Linked DNA regions of Homo sapiens. The protein of the gene in region 1 purifies or fractionates together with the protein of each later gene. This does not show direct contact. Each region holds a gene or a part of one and is shown in the gene's direction. Other genes may lie near its edges. The genes, in order: IGF2BP1, ELAVL1, LRPPRC and STAU2.

Region 1 (7,000 bases):
GGAACTATTGTGTCTATAGATCAATATGGCTTGTTACTATGTTTATAGAGCTTGCGATTTAACTTCACATGTTTGAAATACCGTGTTATTGGAAAGGCAATTAGAGTTAGGAGTAAAGAGGCAATAAAATGGGAAGGAAGAAAAGAAGTCTTATTTGTTATTTTGAAACATTTTCTGGAGATGTGTCTAAGGAACATACACTGACACCAGCAGGTTTATTGAAAAGGATATGGATATTTGAACTGAAAGCTGAGTGTTGATGAAAAATATCCAGAATAAGTGGAATTCTAAAATATGTGGATTTTTTCTTTTGCTCTTGAGGATGGTTTAAATTTTAGGGAATAAAGTGAAAAGCAAGAGAAATAGCAAAACGTGATGAAATGGAACTCAAAACATTTATATTTTAATTTTCATGGTGCCCTGTATTTATGAATCTTTTTCCCCAAGCCATCTGCTTGCTTTTAAGTCATTTCTAGGCCCTTTTTCCCTCCAAAATGCATTACTGAGGGCTCTTTTTTGAGTTGGAATGGAGAGGGGGTTTGTGAGAAGACTGGGTAAAAAAAAAAAATCTGTCCACACCCATATTAAATTAGATCTTTTATGTGTTCTCCCCTTCCTGAAATAATTTTTTTAGCCCAAACATTGAGTCAGTTGTGTTTTCTTTGCTTTTTATTTTGGTTGGTGGTGAGAAGGCACTTCATTTTTCTAGAATGAATCAATTTTTGAAGTCTCAAGATTTAAAAAAGAAAGTTTGTTTTCATTAAGTCAGTTTGCTCTATCATTTTGTGTCTTTGAGGAAGTATGTTGTGGTATGTGTCTTTAGTCTGTGTCTGAAAAGTATTTCGTCAGTTAGGTTTGTTACTGACTTTCCATCTCATGGATGTATAGAACAGGAACTAGTTAATTATGACTAATATATTCTAAGCAAAATGAACAACTATACAAATAATATTTTGTGTATATATACTCTTGTATTTTCCTTATGAACTCTTCTTGAGGCATTCAGTTCCAAATGAACTATGATTTCAATTTCTAAAATAATTCATAAAAACCCAACAACTAAATGTTCCTGGTTGTTTTGTTTTGTTTTTTAAGAGGGGGAAATCAAACAAAAGATATGCTGTAGCAATACCTCTTAATGTATTTTGTTCTTAGTTTGAATTTATTTGATACATATAATTTGTACCTTTTTAAGAACTCAAGAGGCCGAACACTATGCATTTCAACTGAAAACAGCAGTTAGCTTGAATTTTTAAAATGAGGTGATACTAATTTCTTAGAGATCACCATCTCAAACCCCCTTAGTGTTGGAATTTGGTTAACAATTTGTGCTTTTTTGTTGAGAATTTGTATATGTTCACTGCCAGATACTGAGACAAAAGAGAAAAACCAAATGCATTTAAAAACAGTTGTGGAAAGGGCTTGTATATGTTTTATTCTGAGAGACTTAGGAGTAGTTGAGGTAAAGGGGGTACCATTTTAGTGTGACTTGATTACTTTGAGACATGATTTGCTTTTTAAGGGAATTAAACCTTTGTTACACTTGCCACTGTGGTGTGCCTTTTTCTAGAGGAATGTGACCTAAAGATAGCATATTCACTGTCAACTGGTGTCATCAAAATAAAAGGTGTTACTGTTAATTAAGAAAAAAATGAAAGAGATGCACTGACTCATTTTTTTTAAAGGTGAAATGTGTTCACATTAAAGAATTCTAAGTTTGGTGATTTCTTTAGGCAGATTAATGGTCCTTTTCCTCTATGTTGACTAAAAATGAGGTGGGCTAACTCCCTTAAGTACCTATTAAACAAAATTAGTTTTATAAATCGTTCATAAAATTGAGAACTCCCAAAAGAAAGTGTCCAAATTTTACAGTTTAATTTTTTGAAGTTAACAGCTTTAAAAATCTGTGAAGGGATGTCTTATAAATGGCAAAAAATATTTTAAATATATTTTAACAATGATTTGTTGAGGCTCTGAAGAAATCACTTGGATCACTAAATGTTTTCAAAACAACCTAAAAATTGTCTTCAGAAATGGATTTGCACTTAAGGAAAAAAGAAAACCTACCTTGTACTTTGGGGCTGAAAATGAATGAAGAGGGGTTAAAAAGGGAATGAAAACTACTAGAGCGGGAGGGTTTTCAGGCACTTTTACTTTAATGGTTGTAATTATGAATTAGTATCCAAGTCAAAAAGAAAGTTTTTAACTCATACGAGGTAAAAGATAACATGTGACTACTATTCAACATGGAAGTTTAAAGTAGAAACAATTGATTACTCTTTTAAAAAGGTTTTCTTATTAATATTAGGTTAGAATTTTTTTTTTTTTTTTGCTTTACATAAGTGAAAAAAATGGTTGAATGTTAAGTTTTTGTGCACTGTTTGGAGGAAAGGTGGAAACTGGGGTACATTCTTTCCCTATTTTAATTTCCACCTAAAAATTAAACTTTGCAAATTCATAAATTAGTTTCCTTCACTGCTGGTAGAAATCCTTAACTGTTCTCATTTGGGTGGTCAGTATTTCAAGATGAGAGTTTTGTAAGGGCAGTGGCAACTGACTGTCCCTTAGAAGAATTGTAGGTTTCTAGAACCCCTTATTTTCTGACCCAAATTAAAAAGATGAAATTTTACCATAATGGTTTCTCAGATGGAGAACTTTTTAGTAAAAAGGGGGAAGAACTGCAAGTCCCATCACTAATTTATTCAAAGTATTGTTAATTGTTGAAAAGGTAAAGTTTTAATGGCACAGCTTTTGGTGGAAAAAAACATAATTATGTTTCAGAGATTAAATACATGACATTAGCAATTGGAAGAACCTTGATTCAAAGGTTCTGAGCTTCTAATCTTTTAAAATTACCTTAATATGTATCATTTTAATCTATGTGTGTGGGTACTTTTAAGGCTTACTTTTTAAGAGTGTATTTATACTATACTTTAATGTGTAGCAGCCAGTTGACAAAGATACTATTGAGGTAGTCTACTGAGTATACAATTTTAAAACATTTTAAAATTCAGATCTGGTTTAGTTGAGTGAGAAGTGGGGAACAGCAAGTGCTATTTGTTGAAGTTTAAAGGTTTTGTGAAGAGTTATTTAGTGGTTAGATCTGTTGATTTTTGTGTGTGGGGTGGTAGTGGTGGTGATGGGGTTGTTAGAATAAGTTTATGAACCAAAGGCATTTGAAGAACGGACATTTTCCCAGCTGTTAGAATTTAAAATAAGTGTGGTTCGTTCCCTATCCTCTTAAAAGATTCTTGAAATGTGGCTAATGTTTTCCAGAAAGTGCAGCTTAGAATTTGGGATGGGAGTGTTAGGGAGAGAAAAGGGGAGGAAAAAAGCAGCAGGGGGAGACTGGAGAAATCAGACGAGTTAGTCCCGGCTTGGAAATTCCAGACGGGGAGGGGGGAGGGAGAGAGGGAGGGAGGGGAGATACGGGGTTGGGTGGATTTCCCGCTTCCCTTTTAAAGGGGAGCGGCTGGAGTCTCACAGTGTTACCCACGGGAGAGGGGTCGGAGACGGGTGGTAGACTCAGCTCAGGGCAAGGCTATATTTGCTTTTGGAGTTGCCGGCCTTCCCTTCCCCTTTCAAAAAAGAGAGAGAGTAGAGAGAGAGAAAGTGGCGGCGGCGCTGCAGGCTCTTCCTGGAGCGCTCGCCCCGGCCCGGCGGCCCTAACCTTCCCCGCCCGCCCCCGCGCCAGTCCCAGCCCGGCAATCTCGTCTCGCTCTGAGGTGGGGCCGCCCGCCTGCCTTCTCTTAACAAGCCCCTGACAGAGAACATCCGCTGGCCTGGGTCTCCGAGGAGGACTTCCCCTCTCAGATCCCTGAGACCCCAGGAGATCCCAGGCCGCTTGTGGTGCGCCTTAGTCCTGGGAACCCCAGATCGCAAACCTCGCAGCAGATACCCCACGAGAGGGTTCCCCCTCACCGGCTGCGGGCTGCGGGCTGCAGACCCTTTCCAGCACCTGGGCTGCCTCAGGAGCTCTCCATTCTAAGGCAAAAAGCCAGTGGGTAAATGTGAAGTGAAAAGAGGCAAGAAGAGAGGAAGAGTAGGTAAAGGGAAAATAGGATGAGACAGTTGGAGAGAAAATGGAAGTGCAAGTAGCTGTTCCTCTCTCCCAGTAGCTGGGGTCTTGGCCTGAGAAATAGAACCTTAAAGAGTTAAGTGTCAATTTAAGTAACCTGCAATCTTTACAAAATGAGCTGTTTGTGTCTGTCCACAGGTCCTGAAGGCTGACCGAAACAATAACAGAGGCAGTAATAGTAGTCAGAGGTTCTATCCATGGATTTTGTTTATCTTGTAAAAGAGAGACAACAGGCCTTCCAGTTGTCCAGGGTCTCAGCCAGTCTTCGACTCCATGTTAGTGTAAAACTTCTGCACCCCATCCATTTCCACCTTTCCTCTCCTCCCCTATACCTTTTTAAATGCCTGTCAAAACAAAAAGCAGAAGGAAAGGTCTCTCAAACCTGTACTCAAGAAAGTGTATGCCCATTTGGTTACCGATAGTTTGGTTAAAAATGATCCTGTAAGATACCACCTGACACACACCATCGCAAGGGCAAGGAGGCAATGCCAGCAGGAAGCTACGTAGTCCCCAGGTAGTGACTTCATTCTACTAGGAGAACTTGGATGGCCCTTCAGATTTTGATCAGAGGAGACTATGTACTTATTACTGGATAGAAGGGGGGTCATCCTACTATTAAAATTTATTGCAGAGCCTGCTTTGTAAGACCTGCTTACTACCTTGCAGCACAGTAGGTTTGCAATAATACAACAGGCTGGAACAAACTTTTGCTCTAACCATAGTTGACTGACAAAATATATGTTGATTACAGGTAAGTCACAGAAAAGTAGGTTTGGACCTCATACTTTTAATACAGTTGGAAAAAACCTGATTGCAACACACTGAAATGTAACTGTGTGCAGAACAAACACCATCAGAAATGCAGTCCTTTTGCATTTTGGGAAATCCAGGTTCCCAGGAGCATGGCTGGTCGTAAGCAAACTGCTTTTGACTGAAATAGAGAGCAAACAGCTCGATGATTAAGAGAAGTTTTGAGTGGATTGTGCAGATATTTTCAAGACCCCTTAGGACAAGTCTGGTTATTAGACAAGTGGCATTTTGGTGGCTGGAAGGCATGTAAGGGATGGTGTCTGATATGGGATGGCTGGAAATTTTGCTTATAGTTTAGAGGAGGGTTGTGGAGAAAAATCCCATAATAGAGGAGGCAGGAGAAGAGGGGAAGCTCTACATTTTCTCTTTCCCTTTCTACCATGTCTGGTTAGTGGATTCTAGTCAATCCTCTCTACATTTCCTTATGAAAAGAAGGTTAAGGAGAACTTCAAATTTTTTTTTTTTCATTTTGAGTTAATTTTGGTTAAAAACTCAATCACTCATTCAGGACAGGCACGGTGGCTCACATCTGCAATCCTAGCACTTCTGGAGGCCGAATAGGGCAGATTACATGAGGCCAGGAGTTCAAGACCAGCTTGGCCGACATGGTGAAACCCTGCCTGTACTAAAAATACAAAAATTAGCCAGGTGTGGTGGTGCATGCCTGTAGTCCCAGCTACTCGGGAGGCTGAGGCCAGAGAATTGCTTAAATCTGAGAGGTGGAGGTTGCAGTGAGCCGAGATCGCACCACTGCACTCCAGCTTGGGTAACAGCGAGACTGTGTCTCAAACAAAAACAAAAACCAACTCAATCACTCATTTGGATGTTTTGGCCACTTGAAATGGAAAATGTTAAGTCTGAGTGAAATTTGATTGGATAGTTTAGTTTAGTTGATTGGATATAGTTAGGATCTTTAAGGGGAGAAATCAGAGAATTCAGAAATATGTGTGTAATGGTTGTTTGTGTGGTCTGACCTCTTTGGCAAAGAGGAACAAGGAGGAAAGGAATCATTCAAAATTCTTAAGGCTCCAGGAGGGAAGAAGTGCTGTTAGGTCAGAGTCTTAATGACCTACCCTAGGTCTCTCACTCATCCTTTACTGGGGTCTGGAGGAAAGGTCTTCCTCCCAGGAGAATTCAGTGTTTAAAAGCTTGAGCTCAATTTCCGTAACTGTAAAGAAGTGGTCCTAATAGTAGTACACAATAGCTCTTATTGTTATTATTTTGTTGTAGATATTGACTTCTGTCCCTCCTGCCCTAGCCATTGTTTGTCCTCCTTTGAAGCTTTACAGTTGTATCCTACCCTGCCCCATATAGCTGTGGTTAGCTCCATGAGTATTAGAACTGATCAAGTGTACAGATGCCTGAAAATGTGTCCATGAGAGGTTGTCTTTGAACTGTGTGTGTGTCAGCTTGGGCTATATATCTAAGGCACTAGGAACAGTGATGGCTAGGCATGTTGAAGGGGATCTGTGCGTAGGGTGCTTTGGTAACTCTACCTGTATGTTGAAAGGAAAAGCCACCTTTTAGTGGAGAGAGATGAAGCTCACCAGGGCAACCCCACAGAGCCCCTAGATTATAGATTCCCCCAGTACATTCTCTGAGACAGAGGCTTGGAGAGATGAGGCGAGCATGGTGGATAATGCTATTAATTGTTCTTTAGGGGAAACAGGCCATTTATTCTGTTATCGTTTATGCCCTGAACTTGGTCCAGGTTCCTAGCTGAAATTTCACACTTTACGGCTACTGTCAAAGGTGTACATGTAGAGTAGGGACATTGGTGAGAGGGGAACTAACTCTGCATATAAGGTAGGTGTTGTAAGAATTCAGGATGAAGGGGACTGTAAGAATCCTCCTGGGGGTCTGAGGAAGGAAGAAATGAGAGTGACCTCCCCCATCTGCTGGGATGGGTATGTTCATTTTCATGTCCTGCTCTTGGTAAGCTAACAAAGTAGGCATTCAGGAACTGGGGATCCCTAGATACCCAGGGGGTGACTGCACACATTGTTCCCTACTTCTTCTGCTTCTGTAGTGTCCTCACATTCTCCCCCTGGTTCCCTGGTCTGGAACCAGTTCCCAGAGATGCACTCAGAACCCACCTTTATGCCCACTTCT
Region 2 (7,033 bases), on another chromosome or scaffold:
ACCGGAATCAACTGTTCCCTCCTTAGTGTTCCCATCCCATTCAGTTTATTGAATCGAATTCAAGGCTGAATGGCGAGAGAAGCGCAGCGCCCGGCTGGCGCCCCTAGGTGGCAGTAGCGAGGCGGTGCGGCCGACCCGAGCTGTGGGTCAGGGGAAGACCAACGGAAGCCAGCCTGTGGGAGGGAAGTGAGGCTCGCTCCCTCCTCTGAACGACTCTCCCTGCTCCGCTGCTGTGTCCTGGGCCCCCGCTAGGCTCTGGAGAGTGTGCATGATGTGTGTAGGTCATCTCAGCCCACTCTGATGAGTGCTGTGAGAATTATGCCCTGGCTGATGTGGAAGCCCAGAAAAGGGACCTGGGTGGGCACAGGAGAGCCCAGAATGCTTCCTGGAGGAGAGGAGGCAGTAGCGGTGGGGAGGAGCTAACCAGGCAAAGACAATAGGGTGGGGCTTTTTAGGATACAGCCAAGCCCGGAGGTGGGAACATCGCAGTGTTCAGAGAACATCGTGTGTTCAAAGAACCACGTGGGTTCTTTAGGGACAAGAAGGCTGAGATGGGTAGTGGTGGCAGGAGTGCTCAGGTGTCCACTGGGCAGAGGGCTTGGCTGTTACCCTGCAGGTAGGCCAGGGGTGGCTACTGAGCAGTTTTAGTTCACTGCTCACCCTGGTGGAGAGGCTGGGGGGAGACAAGGAGAAACCAGTCACAGGCTGTTGCAGTACTGAGGTGGCCCCGTAATGGCTGAACCGCTTGAGGGTCAGGACTGGGACTGCTTCTATATTTTGTATGCCTGATGCTTTGCTCTGTGCCTGGCACGTGGTTGATATTTTGTCTGTGCCAGGGAAAGGAAAGATTGGCAGACTACTCAGAAGCGACTGGATCCAGGTACCTGTCAAACAGACATCTGTGGCTGGGTGTAGTGGCTCACACCTGTAACCCCAACAGCTTGGGAGGCCAAGGTGGAAGATTGCTCAAGGCCAGGAGTTCAAGACCAGCCTGGGCAACATAGCGAGATCCCATCTCTAAAAAAAAAAAAAATTTTTTTTAAGAGTGAGACGTTTATGTCAGGGGAAGGAATCACAGGAGAGGGAACAATCCTGAACAGCTCGATGGCCAGACTCATGTCACCATGAACAGAAACAGGCAGACTCAAGGAAGGGGAGTGACTAGGAGGAAGAAGATGAAGCTGGGTTTAGAGACACTGAGTTTGCAATCCCACTTAGGAGTCGGTCTAGCAGGAGGTGACAGGAATCTGAATAGGGATGGTGGCAGAGAGGTGGCAGGACGGTGAGAGATCTCACATGTCAAACTGGCAGGACATGGTGCTTGATTAGGTCCAAGGGCTAGAGAGAGGTGGCTTGGGGGACAGGTGGGGCTATGCCACCAAATGAAGTAATTCAGGGGGCGGAGGCGGTTTGAAGAGAGGGCAAGGACAGGAGGAGAGGAGATGAAGGTGTTTGTAGCTGCAGACAGGGAGGTTGGGGAGACATACATTCGCCTTGATTTTGTTCATGAAGTGGGACTAGAGACAGGTACTCACTGTACCAGGCACTGTGGAGCAAGGGGTGACATCCCCAGTGGAGGAAGCTGAAGCTCTGGGAAGGGGAGCGACTTCTGCACAGTAGTTCAGCTGATGAGCAGGAGACTTAGTGCCCAGCTCGGGCCTGCCAGGCTCCAGAGCTCAGGGTTTTTTCCTGCCATGCCCTGTTGCTTTGCACTTCTGTGTGAGATCCCTGCAGTGGCCTTTGGCCTTGACCAGCCAGAAAGAAGCCAGAGCCCTTAGCAGGGCTGTGGGGTGCCTGGACTGGGCCACAGGCCAGCCACACCTGACCTGCTCCTGCCCCGGGCTTCTCAGCCTGGCTGAAAGGGAATTGTCACTTAGCTGGAGCTGCTCCAGCCAGGCATCCTGCCCTTCTGTGGGCCATGGGCAGGGGCTTGGAAGAAGCTGGTGCCATGTCCACCTGAGACCTTGCCTTGCATGGCATTTATAACTGGGTCAGGTGGTGCTTTGGGTTTTTTCTGGCAGCAGAGCATTTCCTGAATGACCTAAGCCTTTTTTACCTGGAAGACTCAGAATGTTGCATCTGGAAAGGACCTTAAACATTATTGGGTCCAAGCCCTGTCAGATGATGTGTGAAGTGTCAAGATTGAGCCTGAAGATAGATTTGACTGTTCTAGTTTTGCTCTGGCTCAAGTGGTTTAGAATACCTGCTCCGTCATGGTGCAATGAAAGTGATTCTCATGCTTGCCTGGTGGAAAGCAGCCTCACTGCTTCACTCTTTTTCTGTCACACATAAAGACACACACATCTCTCTCCCCTGGATATGCGCTAGATGATCGACGGATGTGAACAACATCACTGATGTCACATAGACAACCAGGATTGTTTAAAATAGTGCATTGGAGTCAAAAACCTTCAGAGATCATCCAAACAAGACTTCTCCCAGAGGCCAGGCACCGACGGTGACTCTCACCTCTAAGCCCAGTGCTTGGGAGGCTGAGGTAGGAGGATCACTTGACGTCAGGAGTTAAAGACCAGCCTGAACAACATGGCGAGACACCCCCCCGCCCCCGCCTCTACAAAACATAAAAAAGCGGCCAAGCGTGGTGGCTCATGCTTGTAATCCCAGCACTTTGGGAGGCCAAGGCGGGTGGATCACCTGAGGTCAGGAGTGCCAGAGCAGCCTGGCCAACGTAGTGAAACCCTGTCTCTACTAAAAATACAAAAATTAGCCGGGCGTGGTGGCAGGTGCCTGTAATCTCAGCTACTCGGGAGGCTGAAGCCGGAGAATCACTTGAACCTAGGAGGCGGAGGTTGCAGTGAGCCAAGATCGCACCACTGCACTCCAGCCTGGGTGACAAAGCAAGACCCCCCTCTCTGCAAAACATAAAAAAGCTTAGACAGAACTACATAGAGGACTTAGTAGGACTACGTAGTGACACGCACCTGCAGTCCTAGGTACTTGGGAGGCTTAGGTGGGAGGATCACCTGAGCCTAGGAGGCCGGGGCTGCAGTGAGCCGTGATCATGCCTCTGCACTCCAGCCTGGTCTGAGAGCCAGCAGCCTCCTGTACTGCTGTGTGACACACCCTGGCTTTGCCTGGGGACTCTTAGATGGCAATGGTATAACCTGGGCCCTCAAGGTTCTCACCACTGACATTGGTCATTGAGTGTAAGGCAAATAATGATAGGAGTGGTTGGGACAGTAACAAAGGTTTACAGCAATGGCATGGAGGCACTGAGAACTAGAGTAAGTAACCTGTTGTCCTGGGGGAAGGTGGCCTTTTATTTTTTATTTTTTTGAGACAGTCTCACTCTGTTGCCCAGGCTGGAGTGCAGTGGCGTGATTTTGACTCACTGCAACCTCTGCCTCCCGCGTTCAAGTGAGTCTGCTGTCTCAGCCTCCTGAGTAGCTGGTACTACAGGCATGCACCATCACGCCCAGCTAATTTTTGTATTTTCAGTATAGACAGGGTTTCACTATGTTGGCCATGCTGGTCTCAAACTCCTGACCTCAGGTGATCCGCCTACCTCGGCCTCCCACATTGCTGGGATTACAGGCATAAGCCACCACGCCAGGCCAGGAAGGTAGCTTTTTAAAGATGAGCCAGCCTGGTGTAGTGGCTCTCACCTATAATCCCAGCACTTTGGGAGGCCCAGGTGGGAGGATGACTTGAAGCCAGCATGGGCAACAAAATGAGACCCCTGTCTCTAAAAAAATTTAAAAATCAGCCAGGTATGGTGGCACACACCAGTAGTCCCAGCTACTTGGGAAACTGAGGCAGTTTGAGGCTGCAGTGAGCCGTGATTATGCCACTGCACTCTAGTTTGGCAGCAGAGCAAGACCCTTTCTCAAAAGAAAAATAAGTAAAAATAGAAGTGAGCTGGGAGGCCAGGCATGGTGGCTCACACCTGCAATTCCAGCACTTTGGGAGGCCAAAGTAGGAGGATCACTTGAGCTTGGGAGTTCAAGACCAGCCTGGGCAACAAAGAGAGACCCCCATCTCTTTAAAAAAAAATACTAATTTTAAAAAATGAGCTGGGAAGTGAAGGAGAGGACACTAGTGCCCTGCAGAGGGAACAGCCAAAGCAGAGGCCTGTAGCATATTGGCAAGAAGCTGGAGTGAGCGGGAAGGGAGGGTGGCGACTGAGGCTGGAGAACCACCTGGGTCCGATTGTGAAGGGCCTTGCCAGTTTGACAGTTGCATTGTCATGACAACTTGAGGCCTGGCCCTGCCACTTATTAATGGCATGCCTGACCGTGAGCATCATCGTGTGACCGCCGAGCCTCAATGGGTGGTGACCACTGACAGGGAATACCAGAGGGGTGAGCATCTTGATTGCAGGACAGTGCAGGCCTTGCACCTCGAGAGACAGAAGTGGCTACGACTTGGGAGTCAGTGATAATTGAGTGGTGACAAGGCCCAGTTGTGGTTGGAGCTTGTGGGATAGAAGCTGATTTGGCCCAGGATTGATGATGCAGATTTGGAGAAGGTCAAGGGAAGGGCCTCCAGAGAGTGGGGTGGGGGCCCAGAAACGTCATGAAACTGCTTTGCAGGGCAGGTTGTTGGTTTCTCCCGTGTTACTAGTTGACCAAGAACTTGACCTGCAGGGGCTGCTCAGCCTTGACTCAGAGTGTCAGGAGGAACAGGGCCGCAAAGCAGAAGTTCTCTTTTTAAACCTTTTAAAATTTATTTTTATTGTGGTTTTGTTGTTGTTTTTGAGGCAGGATCTCACTCTGTCGCCCACGCTGGACTGCAGTGGCACAATCATAGCTAACTGCAGTATTGACCTCCCAGGCTCTAGTGATCCTCCCAGCTGAGCCCCCCGATTAGCTGGGATTGCATACAGGTGTGCATCACCATTCCTGGGTAATTTTTAATTTTTTTTTTTTTTGTAATGATGGCATCTCTCTGTGCTGCCCAGGCTGGTCTTGAACTCCAGGCTTAAGCAGTCCTCCCACCTTGGCCTCTGAAAGCGCTGGGATTAAAGGCATGAGTCGCCACACTCAGACAATTTATTTTTAAATTTGCATGTAGGAAAATTCATTTTTTCGAGTAGAGTTCTCTGAGTTTTGACAAACGGATAAAGTTGTTTGATTACCACCATAATAAAGATTGGAAAGTTCGCTCTCCCACAAACAGAAATACTCCCTCCTCCTGTCCCTGTGTAATCGACTTTTCCCCTCACTCCCTAACCCCAGCGACCACAGATCCATCCCTATGGTTTTGCCTTTTCCAGGAAGGCACAGAAATGATGTGGCAAGATGTGTTTGAGATTCACACAAGTAGCATGAATTGGTGATACCTTTTATTGCCAGGTGGTATTCTGTTGTATGGTGTATCCCAGTTTATCCATGAATGGCTTGAAGAATATTTGGGTTGTTGTAGTTTTGGATGATTATGAATAATGCCGCTCTGCACATTTATATACAGATTTTTGTGTGAATATAGATTTTCCTTTCTATTGCCTTAATACTAGGAGTAGGATTGCTGGATCCCATGCTAAGTGTATATTTCACCATAAGAAACTGCCAATCTGTTTTCCAAAGTGGCTGTCACATTTCACATTTTTGCATTCCCACCAGCAGTGCATGAATATTCTGGCTTCTCCACATCCCTGCCAGCACTTGACATTGTCTGTTTTGTTGCTGTTGGTTGTTTTTTGTTTTATTTTGCTTTAGCCATTCTAATAAGTGGGTAGCGGTGTCTCGATGTGGTTTTAATTTGACTAATGATGTTGAGCATCTTTTCATGTGCCTGTCTGCCATCCATATATATTCTTTGGTATAGTATCTGTTCAAATCTTTTGCCATTTTTGAAACCAGGTTGTTTGCTCATTATGTTGTTTTTGGTTTTTGGAGATGGAGTCTGGCCCTATCGCCCAGTTTGGAGTACAGTGGCGCCATCTCGGCTCATTGCAACCTCTGCCTCCCAGGTTCAAGCGATTCTCCTGCCTCAGCCTCCCCAGTAACTGAGATTACAGATGCCCACCACCACGCCTTGCTAATTTTTTTTTTGTTGTATTTTTGTAGAGATGGGGTTTCACCATGTTGGCCGGACTGGTCTCAAACTCCTGACCTCAGGTGATCCACCCACCTCGGCCTCCCAAAGTGCTGGAATTCCAGGCATGAGCCAGCACACTAGCCTGCTTCTGTTTTGAGAGCTTAAAAAAAAGTGTTCTGGGCCAGGCGTGGTGGCTCACGCCTGTAATCCCAGCACTTTGGGAGGCCGAGGTGGGCAGATGGGCAGATCACGAGGTCAGGAGATGGAGACCATCCTGGCTAACACGGTGAAACCCCGTCTCTACTAAAAATACAAAAAATTAGCTGGGCATGGTGGCGGGCGCCTGTAGTCCCAGCTACTTGGGAGGCTGAGGCAGGAGAATGGCATGAACCCGGGAGGTGGAGCTTGCAGTGAGCGGAGATCATGCCACTGCACTCCAGCCTGGGTGACAGAGCAAGACTCCATTTCAAAAAAAAAAAAAAAAGGGTTCTGGGTTGGGTGAGGTGGCTTACGCCTATAATTCTAATACTTTGAGAGGCCAAGATGGGAGGATCACTTGACACCAGGAATTCAAGACCAGCGTGGGCAACATAGTGAGACCCTATCTCGACAAAAAATAAAAAATTAGCCAGAAGGCTGAGGCAGGAGGATTGCTTGAACCCAAGAGTTTGTGGCTGCAGTGAGCTATGATTATGGCATTGCACTTCAGCCTGGGCAGTGGAGTGAGACTTTGACTCAAAAAAAAAAAAAAGTGTTCTGACTACAAGTCCCTTTTGCAAATGTTTACTCCAGTTGGTGGATTTTAATTCTCCTAGCAGTATCTTTCACAGAGCAAAAGTTTCAAATTTTGATGATATCCAGTTTATCCATTTTTTTTTTTTTTTAACGAAGTGGGCTTTTGGTGTTGTGTCTGAGAAATCTTTCCCCAGCCCAATGCCACAAAGATTTTTCTCCAAGAAATTTTATGTTTTTACATTTTAAAACAGAGGTCGGCAGATTTTTTTTGTGTGAAGAGCCAGATGGTAAATATTCT
Region 3 (7,150 bases), on another chromosome or scaffold:
CGCCACTGCACTCCAGCTTGGGCAACAGAGCAAGACTTCGCCTCATTAAAAAAAAAAAAAAAAAGAAAAAAGACAATTCCAGACATCATGTTAATTTACTTCTACATATTCCAGTGCCAACATGCATCTCTAAACATATTTTTTCTTACGTAACCACAAAGCCATTATCATGCCTTAGAAAATTAGCAATAATTGGCTGGGCGCGGTGGCTCATGCCTGTAATCCCAGCAATTTGGGAGGCCAAGGCGGGCAGATCACCTGAGGTCGGGAGTTCGAGACCAGACTGGCCAACATGGTGAAACCCTGTCTCTGCTAAAAATACAAAAATTAGCCAGGCATAGTGGTGCGTGTTTGTAGTTCCGGCTACTTGGGAGGCTGAGGCAGGAGAATTGCTTGAACCTAGGAGGCGTAAGTTGCAGTGAGCTGAGATCACGCCACTGCACTCCAGCCTGGTCGACAGAGTAAGACTCATTCTCAACAAACAAACAAACAACAAATTCTATGGTCAATGTTGCATGCTCATTGTATTGGAACTAACAGTAGCATTGTATGTGATTGATAATTCCTTCCTGGAAGGACTTCTTTCATTCAGGTATTTGTGACCTCACTGGGCTCAGTTCTCCTGCCTCTCTGGCTCTTCTTTCTCAGTTTCCTTTGCTAGATTTTCATCTATACATCCTCTAAAGATTGAAATGACACAAGCCTCAGTCCTTGGACTCCCTCTCTTGTCTATCTGCATTTTCTTCCTAGATGCTTTCATCTATTTCTGTGGCTTCAAATATTAGGTACAAGCTGCAGATTCCCAAATGTATCTTTAGCTCTGACTTTTCCCCTGAACTGACTTGTATGTCATATAGCCAACCCCTATTCAAATTTGACGCTTGGATGTCTAGCAGGCACAAGCTTAATATTCTAGAAGATCATTTTTGATTTCACTTTTTAAATCTGCTTCTCTTTGTTTTCTCCTTTTAAATCAGAGTCATCTCCATCTTTCTAGTTGTTTAGGCCAAAACCTTTGGAGCCGTTCTTGACTTACAATCCACAGCCAATCCATCAGTAAATCCCCTTGGTTCTACTATTTAAATAGAGTAAGAACCTGACCCTTTCTCATCATTTCACCTGCTGCCCTCTAATCCAAGCCACTAGCATCTCTATTCTGGATTAGCCTTCTCTTTGGTCTATTTTTATTTATCCCCATTCCCCTAAAATCTCCTTTCCAAACAGCAGATAGAGTGACCCTTTCAAAATGCAAATGGGTGGCTGGGTGCCGTGGCTCACGCCTATAATCCCGGCACTTAGGGAGGCTGAGGTGGGTAAATCACTTGAGGCCAGGAGTTAGAGACCAGCTTAGCCAAAATGGTGAAACCCCATCTCTACTAAAAATACAAAATTAACTGGGTGTGGTGGTTCATGCGTGTAATCTTAGCTACTTGGGAGGCTAAGGCATGAGAATCGCGTGGACCCGGGGAGGCAGAGGTTGCTGTGAGCCTAGATTGTGCCACTGCACTTAAAAAAAAAAAAAAAAAGCAAAAGGGTGTGGTGGCATGCACCTGTAGTCCCACTTCCTTGGGAGGCCAGGGTAGGAGGATTGCTTGAGCCCAGGAGTTCAAGGCTGTAGTGTGTCATAATTGCACCTGTGAATAGACACTGCACTCTAGCCTGGGCAACACAGCAAGACTCCATCTCTTTAAAAGCAACACACCAAACTATCCAATGGTTTCTCATCTCATTCTAAGTAAAAGTCTTCAGTCTAAATAAAAGTCAGTCTTCACGGCCACCTACAACACCCTGTTTGATATGGCCTCCAACTACCTCTCTGACCTCCAGGCCCCTCTCCACCCCCTGCTCCTTCCTCTACTCCTACCCCCTGCTCTCTACCCCCTGCTCTTTTCTCTCATCCACACAGTCCTCCTCCTTAAAGTTCTCTGAATAGGCTACACCTATTATTGCCTCTGGGTTTTGGTGTTTGCTGTTCTCTAAGCCTTAACCACTCTTTTTTTTTTTCTCCTTCCAGAAAATTCTCCTGGCTTCCTCCTTTCCTTCCTTCAGGTTTCTGTTCAACGTTTTTCCTATTTAAAATATCAACTCTCCGGGCGTCGTGGCTCATGTCTGTAATCCCAGCACTTTGGGAGACGAGGCAGGCAGATTGCTTGAGGCCATGAGTTTGAGACCAGCCTGGGCAACACGGCAAAAACCCGTATCTACTAAAAATACAAAAATTAGCCAGGGCTTGGGCCTGTAATCCCGGCTACTCAGGAGGCTGAGGTGGGAGGATCGCTTGAGCCCAGACGTCGAGGCTGCAGTGAGCCAAGATCGTGCCATTGCTCTCCAGCCTGGGTGACAGAGCAAGACCCTGTCTTGAGAAAAAAAAAAAAAAAGCAACTCCCCCCATGACACCCTCAATCCCTTTACCCTGGCGTATTTTGCATCACAGTTCTTTTTGTCTTCCCAAATTAAACTTTAAAGAGCTTAATTAGAATCTAGGGTTGGTTTGTTTTGTTCTCTGCTGTATTCCTAGGATTTCAAATAGTGTATGGCACTGGATATGTATTCAATAAATACGTGTTGAATAGGTGAATAACTTGTATTCCCAGTGCTCAGTAATATAACCCAGAGTCAATCAATTCACCTTGTTTCTTTTGGGGGCTTGGAGCGGGTGTCTTCGTTCCCTCATCTCTCAAAGGAGAGGTGAGCTAGGTCATCTCAAAATAGACATTAATTTAACACATATTTAATGAGACCTACTGTGTGTCTGGCACTGGGTAGGTGTATGGCCTACAATAAGAGATCACAGTCCCTACTGATAAGGAGTTCGTGGGATTAACTGATAAGGAGTCCAGTGGGATAAACAGTCACTTCGGAAATGACCGTGGGAGGGCTTCCAGAGGAAATACCCGCCGCGTTTGCCTCGTGATAGGTAGGGGACAGGCAGGTGTAGAGGGAGTGGAAGGCTGTTCTCAGCTTCCCACGTGTGCACAGGGAACCGATCCAGTCTGTAAGCCCTGTGAAGGCAGCGACGTGGTTTTTTTGTTTTGTTTTAGACAGAGTCTCGCTGTGTCACCCAGGCTGGAGTGCAATGGCGCCATCTTGGCTCACTGCAACCTCCACCTCTCGGGTTCAAGCAATTCTCCTGCCTCAGCCTCCCGAGTAGCTGAGATTACAGGCGCCCGCCACCACGCCCGGCTAATTTTTTGTATTTTTAGTACAGATGGGGTTTCACCATGTTGGCCAGGCTGGTCTCCAACTCCTGACCTCAGGTGATCCACCCGCCTCGGCCTTCCAAAGTGATGGGATTACAGGCGTGAGCCACTTCGCCAGCGATGGGTTTAACTTGCCAGTTTTCTCCCCATATTTGGCTGGAGACTCTTAATTACATTGTTCTTTTACTTCTCACATGTATATGTGCATTTACTGAAGGGAGAGGCGCGGTAGGGGTGGAGGGTTGGGGAAGAGAGTCAGTTCAATTCCAGCTTTAAAACTATAGGATTTTTGGTAGAATTCATTTATTTTCTAAAGCGAGGCCCCGCGTACGCGCTTAGGGTGGGGACCTGCGCGTTCCTTTACACTGTTCCCAGGCCCTGATAATCCACATCCTATCATGTTGAACCTGGGAGGCAAACGGCAAGGTGCAAAAGACCTCCACGGTTTCTCCGGCCCGCGTTTCTGAGAGTGAAGGGCCGTTCCTATTGGACATGGCGTCAGGGCTGAACGTTAGCAGCAACATCTGCACTCGGGGGCGGGGGAAACCTTCCCACGTCCTGGGATCTTCATAGTCGGCTCTCCTCGAGAGTTCTCGGTATTTTTACTAGTTGGCCTCCCACAAGCCTCTGCGCCAACCTGGGAGGAGTTGACCTCTTGCGGCTCTACCAACAGAGGAGTGCAGGGGTGCAGCGAATGAACACGATGCCCAGATCGGAGACGGAAGACGGAAAAGAAAAGCTTCGATAATGAATCAAGCAACATCGTTTATGTAAATATTACATTGGGTCTTCTGTCCTCGGAGAAGTGCGGTTTTCCATCTTCCAACCTAAAACAATCCGTCGCTCCCCCCACATTTGGCACGCCCGGCAGTTGGTCTCTGCCGCGCCAGGCTACCCTGCGGTCACATGCTCCTCCTGTCCTTCTGGCGGAGCGTGCTTCCCGCTGCGGGGACGTTCGAGCAATGGCAGCCCTGCTGAGATCCGCGCGTTGGTTGCTGCGTGCCGGGGCGGCCCCGCGCCTCCCGCTCTCCCTGCGCCTCCTCCCTGGCGGCCCGGGCCGGCTGCATGCCGCCTCCTATCTGCCCGCCGCTCGCGCCGGGCCCGTGGCCGGGTGAGTGCCCAGGCCCTTTCTCCAGGCAAGCTGCGGCGCCAGGGTCCCCCGGGGTCGTGGGTGCCGGCAGGGACCGGGTCCTGCCTGTGCTCGCCACCCTTCTCCCCGCCCCAGGACCTAGCCTCCCCGGGCTCCGCACCACGCTCCCTACCAGGGGTTTTCGGGTGACAGGGTTAAGCGCCTTCAGAAGGTCACGGCTGTGGGCATGGCCTGCCTCCGGCTTGAATCCTGCCCCCGCCACTTCAGCCTGGACCTTACTGCCCTCGGGGTACCCATGGTCAACGAAGATGAGGGGGGCTTTGAAGACTGCTTTGGGAAGTCGGGTGGTGGTCTTTTCCTTACACTTGGCCAGCTTGGGTGGTGTCCCACGTGCGGTCACCGTTGGTGATCAGTAACCACCTAGCATTTAGATATTGGAAATTTAGCTTTTTGCGAGGGATGGGGCGGCGAGGAGTGGGTTGGGAGTTTGGGTGAGCCACGGATGACTTAAAGCTGGACGCTGGATTATGATCACTTTGGGCTTTTGCCTGCGTTCTCTTGAATGGAGTTTTCCTTCAGCATTTAAGAAGGTGTTGCGCGAGTTGGGCTGGAGTGCAGTGGCGCGATCTCAGCTCACTGCAACTTCCGCTTCCCGGGTTCAAGCGATTCTCCTGCCTCAGCCTCCCGAGTAGCTGGGATTACAGGTGTGCGCCACCATGCCAGGCTAACTTTTGTACTTTTAGTAGAGACTGGGTTTCACCATGTTGGCCACGCTAGTCTCGAACTCCTGACTTCAAGCGATCCTCCTGCCTCGGCCTCCCAAAGTGCTGGGATTACAGGTGTGAGCCACCGCTCCCGTCCTGTAAGTGTCTTTGAATGAATGAGCACATGCAAGGCACTCTGTTGGAATCTGGGGATGCAAAGGCAAGTTAAACTCTAAGTGGGTGTCAGATAGGCGAATAAATGCTCTCATGGTTTGAGGTTTATCAGAGATAGGTTTGGTATAGACTTTTGTAGTGGAGGGGAAAAGAAAAGTTGGTGAAAGTGTTCATTTGGTTATTAATAGTATTCTGACCACCAGAGAAGGGGAGATAGGTGCTGAGCTTTTAGCATTGGAGAAAAAATGATTTTGAAAGACTGATGCTTGTAAATTAAGGTACTTTGAGAGCTCGCGTAAGGACTGAGAGCCAGGGATCTGCAGTAGGCTGGGCCCAGACTGCAGCCTACTCCAGATTTATCTGCATTTTATCCTCAAATTATCTGCATTATGCCATTAGAGAAGTTACTTAACATCTCCAGGCCTCAGCTTCCTTAGCTATAAGGTGGGAGTAGTAGTAGTGTTAGGAATATTGCAGAATTATCTGTATTAAGCACTTAGTATAGGGCCTGATGCCTAGTAAGTGCTTTGTTGGTTACTACAGGAGTCATAATATCTACGGTTATGCGGACCTTCATGGACCAGCCTGAACACCTAATCTCGCCATAAAATTACGTGGAGGAAATAATTTATGATTTCTTAACAACTTAGTTATAATCTTTGGAATGGAGCGTACTTGTAATTTGGAGTCTGCCTATATTTTCTTATTGGGCTTGAACAGTTAACTTTCCGAAATCATGCCTCTGAGCACAGAACTATATACATCTCTTGGCTTTCAGAGTTTCTTTTGAGAAAGTTGTGCCCATTACTCTTATTTTTCTAATCCTCAGCATTTCTGTGAGGCCAGGGGAAGGTCCACATTTTCTTTTATCTTCACTGTTGCATTTGAGGAGAACTGAATAAAGAGAGAACATAGTTTAGTAGAAAGGGTGGTCTCGGTGTTCATCAGACCTGGGTTCTGTTTACTTACTGCGTAATCTCAGCCATCTTACTAACCTGTCTGTTCCTCAGTTTCATTATCTGTAAAGGCCTTTCCCCCTTATCTTTGTAAAGTTGCTTTCTTATCATTCAGATCTCAAATGTCTCTTCAGGGAAGCCTTACCTCAACACTCAATCCAAAACATGCCGGTCCCACTGTAGATTTATTCGTGGCACACCTCACTTGTCTGATATCATTACTTATTTCTCTGGTTTTTTTTTTTTTCTTTAGTAGAAGGTAAGCTATATGAGAGCAGGACTTTGTCTTGTTCACCACTGTGTGTTCAGGTGACAGCAGGCAATAAAGAAGTGATTGTTCCCTCTTTTTCCTGGACTCTGAGCACTGTATATAGTCTCCTACCCGACATCCTGTAAGCATGCCCAGATCTTGCCCACGTGAAACACAGAACCTTTCCTGGAACTCTGTTTACTCTAGAAGTTTCTCAGTCTCTTCCCTGTCCATACTTCTCTGTCCCTTTAATTTCATCACTTTTCATTCACTTTCCTATCCACTGCAGTCACACCGCTGTCAAAGGCCATTATTATCTTATTGATTTTTTTATTGTATTTTTGAAAAATTATTTCAAAAGTGCCTTGAAGAACAGTTGCAAAAATTATTCCTTAAGGTGCCTCGAGGGACAGTTGCAAAACCTGGGTGGTGGGAACAATAAACTAAAAATCACCCTTAATTATGTCAACCAGAGAGCCATTCATTGATAGCTGTCCTTCTAATGACTTATGTATGTGTAAGATGTATGTTTATTTAACTTTTTGAAAGGACCTCTTTTAATTACCAAATCCACTTTTTAGGCCTTGACCTGGCATATTACTCTGTCTTCCATTTTCCCCTTCATGAGACACTTTTCTTGGTATTGATGACACCATTTTTCTAGGTTCTCTTCTCTTTAGGATTTGTCTCATTTGCTTGATTCCTCTTGCTTCTGTTCACCTATTAAATGCTGATGTTCTTGGTAGTTTTACTCGTGGTCCTTCTGTGTTTTCTCA
Region 4 (7,037 bases), on another chromosome or scaffold:
AAGAATTTAAAAAAATTCAGATATCATCAATAAAGGAGGGTAACTTCTATGGTGGGTGCTGGGGGCTAGATGAATTTTACAGGAAAATAAATGTCAAGAAAAGGGCATCATAATATAAGATATAATATAAGAAAGAAGAGGACATAGAAGGAAACTGGAGTTTGTGATTCTGGAATCTGTCCCATTCAAACTGCTCAAATCCGATAATGGTGAATTTGAAAGCATTATCTTTTTCCTGATGCTTGAACATTTCACTGCAATGGTGACTGGTAAAAATGTGTTGATAAAACAGACGCTTTTTAAAAAAAAATTTAATTTTAAATTTATTTTTAATTAAATGGAGGTGGGGTCTCACTTTACTGCCCACGCTGGTTTCAAACCCCTGGTTTCAAGAGATCCTCCCTCTTTGGCTTTTCAAAGTGCTGGGATTACAGGCATGAGCCACTGCGCCTGGCCTCATTTGCTTTAATCAGCTGCCTATTAATAGGCCCACTGTTCTTTATTTATTTATATTTTTTGATACAGGGTCTTTCTTTGTGGCCCTGGCTGGAGTGCAGTAGTGTGATCTCAGCTCACTCCAACCTCTGCCTCCCAGGCTCAAGTGATCCTCCCACCTCAGCCTCCTGAGTAGCTGGGACTACAAGCACGCACCACCACGCCCAGGTAGTTTTTCTAATTTTAGTAGAGATGGGGTTTTTGCCATTTTGCCCAGGCTGGTCTCGAACTCCTGACTTCAGGTGATACGCTAGCCTCCCAAAGTGCTGGGATTATAGACGTGAGCCACCACAGCCGGCTGGCCCACCGCTCTTTAAATATTCATTATTTTCAACTCCTATACAAATATTTTATTTTAAAGTAAATCCTAAAATGATTGTAGAGTGATGTGTGGATTTCCATGTCACTCAGGTGATTTCATGTACTGATACTATATACCTTGAGCAACTGAAAGTGCTGATTCAATTAAAAAACAATTTCCTTTCTGATAATTGTGACTTAGAAAAATTCATTCTATTTGGGGTTTACCAATGACTGAAAATCAGTTATGAGGAACAGTTACGGGAGGGATAAAGTTTTCAATTAACTTTAAGGATCTGAATCAAAGAGAATGAAATCTGACCACCCCAGAGTTCTTTCCAAAAGTATAAACTCATCCATTTATACCAAAGGATTTACCGTCCACCTACTTGCTGTTGGATGCTGGGACTACAGATATGCATGAGACACAGAGCCTGCCCTTCAACAATGCAATGTTTGGTAGATACAGACAGGCTAAAAAAAAAAATTCTAACATACCTACAATATCAGAGAAGAGAGGTACAAGAGAAGAGCACTCGCCTGCTCAGAGGAGTGTTAGAGAATGCCTCTCAAGGAGGTGATTTTTTTTCTTTTTTTTCTTGAGATGGAGTCTTGCTCTGCTGCCCAGGCTAGAGTGCAGTGGCTCGAACTCAGCTCACTGCAACCTCTGCCTCCCGAGTTCAAGCAATTCTCCTGCCTCAGCCTCCCAAGTAGCTGGGATTACAGGTGTGTGCCACCACGCCCAGCTAATTTTTGTATTTTTAGTAGAGATGGAGTTTCACCATGTTGGCCAGGCTGGTCTCAAACTCGTGACCTCGTGGTCTGCCCGCTTCGGCCTCCCGAAGTGCTGAGGTTACAGGTGTGAGCCACCACACCCGGCCAAGAAGGTGATTTTTGAATGCCGTGAAAGATTATTTGTTCACCAGGCGAGAGAAGGGTAGCCTGAAGGGAGAGAGAATAGCCTATGGAAAGACACAGAGGTAGGCAGCTTGACCCTTGGTATGGCTGGTGGGAAAGTAAGGTATTCATTCAAAATATTCAACAATTTCTGGTCAACTTCTTTCAGTCAATGATGGACAGGTGGACTGCATATACAACGGTGGTCCCATAAGATTATACAGTTCTTTAAGCCGGGCGCCTGCAATCCCAGCACTTTGGGAGGCCGAGGTGGTGGGGAGGGGCGGGGGGGGGGGGGGCCGGCGGGGAATCACTTGAGGTCAAGAGTTCGAGACCAGCGTGGCCAACATGGTCAAACCCCGTCTCTACTAAAAATACAAAAATTAGCTGGACGTGGTGGCATGTGCCTGTAATCCCAGCTACCAGGGAGGCTGAGGCAGGAAAATTGCTTGAACTCGGGAGGTGGAGGTTGCAGTGAGCTGAGATTGTGCTACTGCATTTCAGCCTGGGTGACAGAGCGAGACTTCGTCTCAAAAAAAAAAAAGATTATATAGTTCTTTTACTGTAGGTTTTCTGTTTAGGTACAAATACCCTTGTGTTGCAAAATTGCCTACAGTATTAGTACAGTAACACACTGTACAGGTTTGCAGCCTAGGCGCAATAGCTATATACCATATAGCCAAAGCAAGTAGTTGGCTAGACTACCTAGGTTTGCGTAAGAACACGCTATGATGTGCGCAAAACAACAAAAATCGCTTAATGACACGTTCCTCAGAACATATCCTTGTGGCTAGGTAAGGCATGACTGTATTAGAATGCTGACTGGGTGCGTAAGCCGCTAGAAGGAGCACAGCAAATTTAGGGAGGATGCAACATGTTAAATCCGAGGGAACTGGCAGAGGTGAAAAGGGGGGAAAGGAGCATAGGAAAGAGTTCTGGGAGGAAAAATATAGCTGTAGCTAACATTGTACCAGGAGAGGTACTACATACCCGGTCCTATTTAAAGGGCTTCATATGTATTGTCACATTTAAATACGAACTATCTATCACATGTAGTCTCCTCTTGATGCACAGGATAAGTAACATGCCCGTGGTCTCCTCACCAGTTAGCAAGCGGATATCCAGCCTTGGTTATCTGACTCTGGCGCCCTTGCGGTTAACCAGGACACACACTACCTTCCCAGGTGCAGACATGAGATTGGTTTTAGATGATGACTGAAATCACCGGCCTGGGAGACATTTCTCAGTCAGAGAAGTGACACTGGGAAGAAACCCTAGAAATAACGTTGCAAACGAGTAAGTTTGTGAAAACACACTAATAGTTCTATTTCGAAATTTCTTTGTCAGATTATTTTTGGTGCCGGTTACTAAACGAAGTGTTCAGTTTCATTGAGCTTAACTGGGTTGAAGTTATCTAGACAAAAGTAATCCACATCAAAACCAGGACGAATTAAGACGTAATTTCTGTTTTCTGGCACTCTTGCCTCATAAATCTAGGATTCAGGGCATTGTTTTCAATGGTTCTCATTTTTGGCTCCAAGGATTCTTTTTCATGTGACTAATATTTTCGGTAGAAGAGGAGGTCTGGCCACGCCGCGGGTCTTGGCGAGCAGGTGATCACGGATCCCTGGTGTTTGCTGGGCGAGACGGTGAAGCAACCTCCTCCCCGCCCCCTCCCCCGTCTAGAAAGGTGCAAGATCCGCTAAACCGTGCGTTGCACAGCGGCGGCCGGAGCAGACGCGGGATGGTCGCGCGTCCCCTGCACAGCACAGAGGGGCAGCCGGAGAGCCTGGGAAAGGTACGAGCGGGGAATCAGAGCACAGGGTGCGGACCAGAAAGAGCAGACGGTCAGTCGGGCGGGGAAGGAAGTTGCCGAGTTGCAGGTGTGGAAGGGGCTGCCCCAGGCCCACCCTTGGCAGACGAGGGGGCGGGGAGTCGCGCCGGGGACGAGGAGACTGCGGACCGGGCGCGCTCCTTGCGCAGTCGCTCGCCCGCGTGCCCAAGCCCCCCGGGAATGGCCCTCGCCCAGGGGCCCAGCTCGCCGCCGCTAGCCCCGCAGAGCCTGCAGCTGCTGGGGCCCGGCAGCCGCCAGGGGGCGGGAGCTGCGTCGCGAACAATGGCCGCGCTTGGTCGCGGGCCGGCGGGAGGCGGAGTGGAGGTAGAGCCGGTGCCGGGCGCGCGCGCCGGCCGGGCGTGCTGGGGCGCGGGAGCGGCTGCGCAGGCGGGGGCGCGCGGCGCGAGCGCGGGAGGGCGCGGCGGGAGCGCCGGGGAGGCGGGCGGAGGCGGGCGGAGGCGGGGGGCGGGGAGCCCGAGGGGTGGAAGCCGGCGGCGGCCGAGCGGGGTCAGTTCTCTGTAGTGTTTGCCAATGTTGGAGCCGTCTGCAAAGTGTCCCCGGCAAGAAGGTAAATACCCTCATCGGGGGCGTCCGGGAGACCCCGACTTCCGCGCCGCCGGCGAAGAAGGCAGAGGGCGCTGGGGAGCCCTGCAGTTCCGCAGCACGGGGAACCCGGAGAAAAGCAGCCCCCTTCGCGGCCTCCCCTCCCCCGCGCCTTCCCTCCCACATCGGGCTCTCGGGGCAGCAGCGGGGAGGGGAGACCGGCGGGGGAGGGAGGACAGGGAGGCGAAGGAATTGGGGTGGGGGGTGCGTGTGTGGTGGAGGGGGTGGGACGACACAGGTGTCCTGAGGGGAGGAGCCGGGAGGAAGGCGAGGAGGCCGGGCCAAGTGGGGGTGCGGAGGTCGGGGAGACAGGAACGCGGCTGCGGGCGCGGGAGGCTGGGGTTCTAGGGGGCCGGGGTGGTAGCGGCCGGAAGAGAGGACGGCGAGTGCAGCCACGGTGTGGCTGCGAGGGAGAGGGAGCGCCTAGAGTAGGGCAGGGGAGGGCGGCCCGGGGAGGGTCTGCGGGAAATGGGCCTGGGGGCGCTGGAGGCGGAGCGGCGGGGCCGGGGCGCGCCGGAGGGTGGCGGCGGCAGCTATTTCTGTAGAATGGGCTAGTGGTAAAGACGTAACTTGCCGAAATGGGGAGGGTAGGTGGGGCCGAGGGGACAAAATATATCCTATGACAGGCAAGTTCTGCTGTGGCTGTTACGAACTCCTACCGTGATGGCTCGGCTTAAAGGGGTAGTTGGCGGTAGTGACCTTGCCGGGGTGAAGGGAGTTGGGCGAGGAGACAAAGCTCAGTTACGGAATCCGCTGTGTGAGAGCAGGAACTCTAGTCTCTTCGGGGTCGAGCCGGGGGCTGTGGCTTGGGGGCTGGGGGTGCTCCGCAGAGGCCATTGAGAAGCACGCCACTCTGGGATTCTTAGGGAGGCGGTGGGGGTAATGGCCGTGGGATTCTGGAAGTCTTTGGAAATGTGTGTAGAATTTTGCATTTGTGAATAATTTTCTTTGGTAAGGGTCCATATTTGCTGTGATGTCCCCTTACCCCCATCCCCACTCCAAAGGGTTAAGAACTGCTTGAGCAGATAGAGAGGGACCATTCAATTAGGGTAGACCTGGGAATTTACCAAAGGATTTTAAAGTGGGTGGATCCTGCAGAAAGAAAGGCTAGAGATGATCCTTTAAAGATATTTTACTGTTAATTGAAAACGTTTTTTATTTAATGTTTGCTTTCACAATTTTGGTGAACTTTTGCTGAGCATTACTTGGCTTCTGATGCATCCTGTGTTTCAGACCAGCATCGTGAATACTTGAAATCAAAATTGTGATGGACAGGCAGGGTGATAGTAACCTTGGAGGAGAAAAGATTTCAACATTTCTCCAGGATATTTCTTCCCCGTCCTTGCTTTCTTTAGATGATTCAAGTACACTGTTGTGAACTCAGCTGCGGTGGAAAAATCTTATTTAATAAAACTACCAAAACCAAGACTTACTCTCCATCTCTGTTTTGTAGTATGGCCAGATTTTCATTGTTCAGTTTGTATCTTACTGCAAACAAGAGATATCACATAACACTTTAATTGTAGATTGCTGCATTTTGCAGCAGGCCTGTATTAAATTTGCGAAGCAGTTATGCCAAACTATCTGGTGTGTTTGTGTTTTCCTGCTATGGTTTCAAGTCAAGTCACTATTGCCATATTTTATTATATGGTAGGCTAGTCTGAAATTTATTCCTAAGTGATGATAAGTTGGTAGGATATGGTACATACTTGCTCACAAATTACTGCATTTTTCCCCATAAAAACCAGTGTTTTGTATTTGTAAGAATGTTGCTGTGTAATCCAAGTATGTATTGTTAATTTCAAATAAAATGCTGTGTAATTTTTAAATTTTAACTTTATTTGGAAATAATTTCAAGCTTACAGACAAATGGCAAGAATAAGAATAATACAAAGAAAATCTTTGTAACCTTTATTCAGATTCACCTGTTAACATTTTATGTATTTATTATTTGCTCTCTATCACACACAAAATATTTTTCCCCTGGACCATTTAAGGGTAAGTTACATACATTGTGATCCTTAACTCCTAAATACTTGAGCTTGGAAAACCATGCAAATTTTACATTTTAGCTTACTTGGCTTGTCTGGAATGAAGTGCTAGGAAGAGTGGCTTGGTTTGCTTTTCAACAAATAGTATGAATATAAAAAAAATCTAAGATAGTCATCAAGCTTTTAAATATACAAACAATCCAGAAATCGAGGCAGAGCGGTTTTCCTGTTTAGGTTCTAGAAGATATGGTAGGTTTTTTTTTTTTTTTCCTTTGTGCCTACCCTTCTCTTTATTCCTATTATTATCTTGTTTTGTGCACGTTCAGTGCTGGGAATCTGATCATTTATAGGTACAGATCATAATAAAGAGGGAAAACTCTAGATACTGCAAAATTGAATTCTCTTAGACTGCATAGTTTGAGACACGCACAGTATGATTATTCACATATAGATATATTTGTGCCTCTTATAGGTACACAAAATACTAGATGTCTAGAATCAGTAATAATTATCATTTTTATTTATGTGTGCATCGTTTGATTTTAAATAATCCTCCCCAAGTTCTATATAGGAGCTTTGCCATTATGTTGTCCTAGAGGTCAAGCCCTTGACTTTGTTCCAGGAAAAATTATAAGAAGGCAAATCTTTTATTTTTCACCAAGCTGATCATAGAAAATAAAAAAAATTGGCCAGGTGGGGTGGCTCATGCCTGTAATCCCAGCACTTTGGGAGGCCGAGGCAGGTGGATCAGGAGGTCAGGAGTTCGAGACCAGCCTGGCCAACATGGTGAAACCCCGTCTCTACTAAAAATACAAAAATTAGCTGGGTGTGGTGGTGCGCGCCTGTAATCCCAGCTACTCGGGAGGCTGAGGCAGGAGAATCGCTTGAACCCGGGAGGCAGAGGTTGCAGTGAGCTG

What was found.
Region 2: the proteins of IGF2BP1 (region 1) and ELAVL1 purify together in Homo sapiens (co-immunoprecipitation; 3 studies listed by BioGRID and IntAct, with this or other methods). This does not show direct contact.
Region 3: the proteins of IGF2BP1 (region 1) and LRPPRC purify together in Homo sapiens (co-immunoprecipitation; 2 studies listed by BioGRID and IntAct, with this or other methods). This does not show direct contact.
Region 4: the proteins of IGF2BP1 (region 1) and STAU2 purify together in Homo sapiens (co-immunoprecipitation; 2 studies listed by BioGRID and IntAct, with this or other methods). This does not show direct contact.

The regions. Positions count from the first base shown.
Region 1 is NC_000017.11:49,000,385-49,007,384, forward strand, and holds part of IGF2BP1 (insulin-like growth factor 2 mRNA-binding protein 1), read left to right. Parts: exon of another isoform or gene 1-4,422; intron 4,423-7,000. UniProt on the Homo sapiens protein: RNA-binding factor that recruits target transcripts to cytoplasmic protein-RNA complexes (mRNPs). This transcript 'caging' into mRNPs allows mRNA transport and transient storage.
Region 2 is NC_000019.10:7,995,635-8,002,667, reverse strand, and holds part of ELAVL1 (ELAV-like protein 1), read left to right. Parts: intron 1-463; exon of another isoform or gene 464-551; coding exon of another isoform or gene 552-616; intron 617-7,033. UniProt on the Homo sapiens protein: RNA-binding protein that binds to the 3'-UTR region of mRNAs and increases their stability.
Region 3 is NC_000002.12:43,992,960-44,000,109, reverse strand, and holds the start of LRPPRC (leucine-rich PPR motif-containing protein, mitochondrial precursor), read left to right. Parts: upstream 1-4,120; 5' UTR 4,121-4,162; coding exon 4,163-4,311; coding exon of another isoform or gene 4,312-4,336; intron 4,337-7,150. UniProt on the Homo sapiens protein: May play a role in RNA metabolism in both nuclei and mitochondria. In the nucleus binds to HNRPA1-associated poly(A) mRNAs and is part of nmRNP complexes at late stages of mRNA maturation which are possibly associated with nuclear mRNA export.
Region 4 is NC_000008.11:73,743,840-73,750,876, reverse strand, and holds the start of STAU2 (double-stranded RNA-binding protein Staufen homolog 2), read left to right. Parts: upstream 1-4,036; 5' UTR 4,037-4,094; intron 4,095-7,037. UniProt on the Homo sapiens protein: RNA-binding protein required for the microtubule-dependent transport of neuronal RNA from the cell body to the dendrite.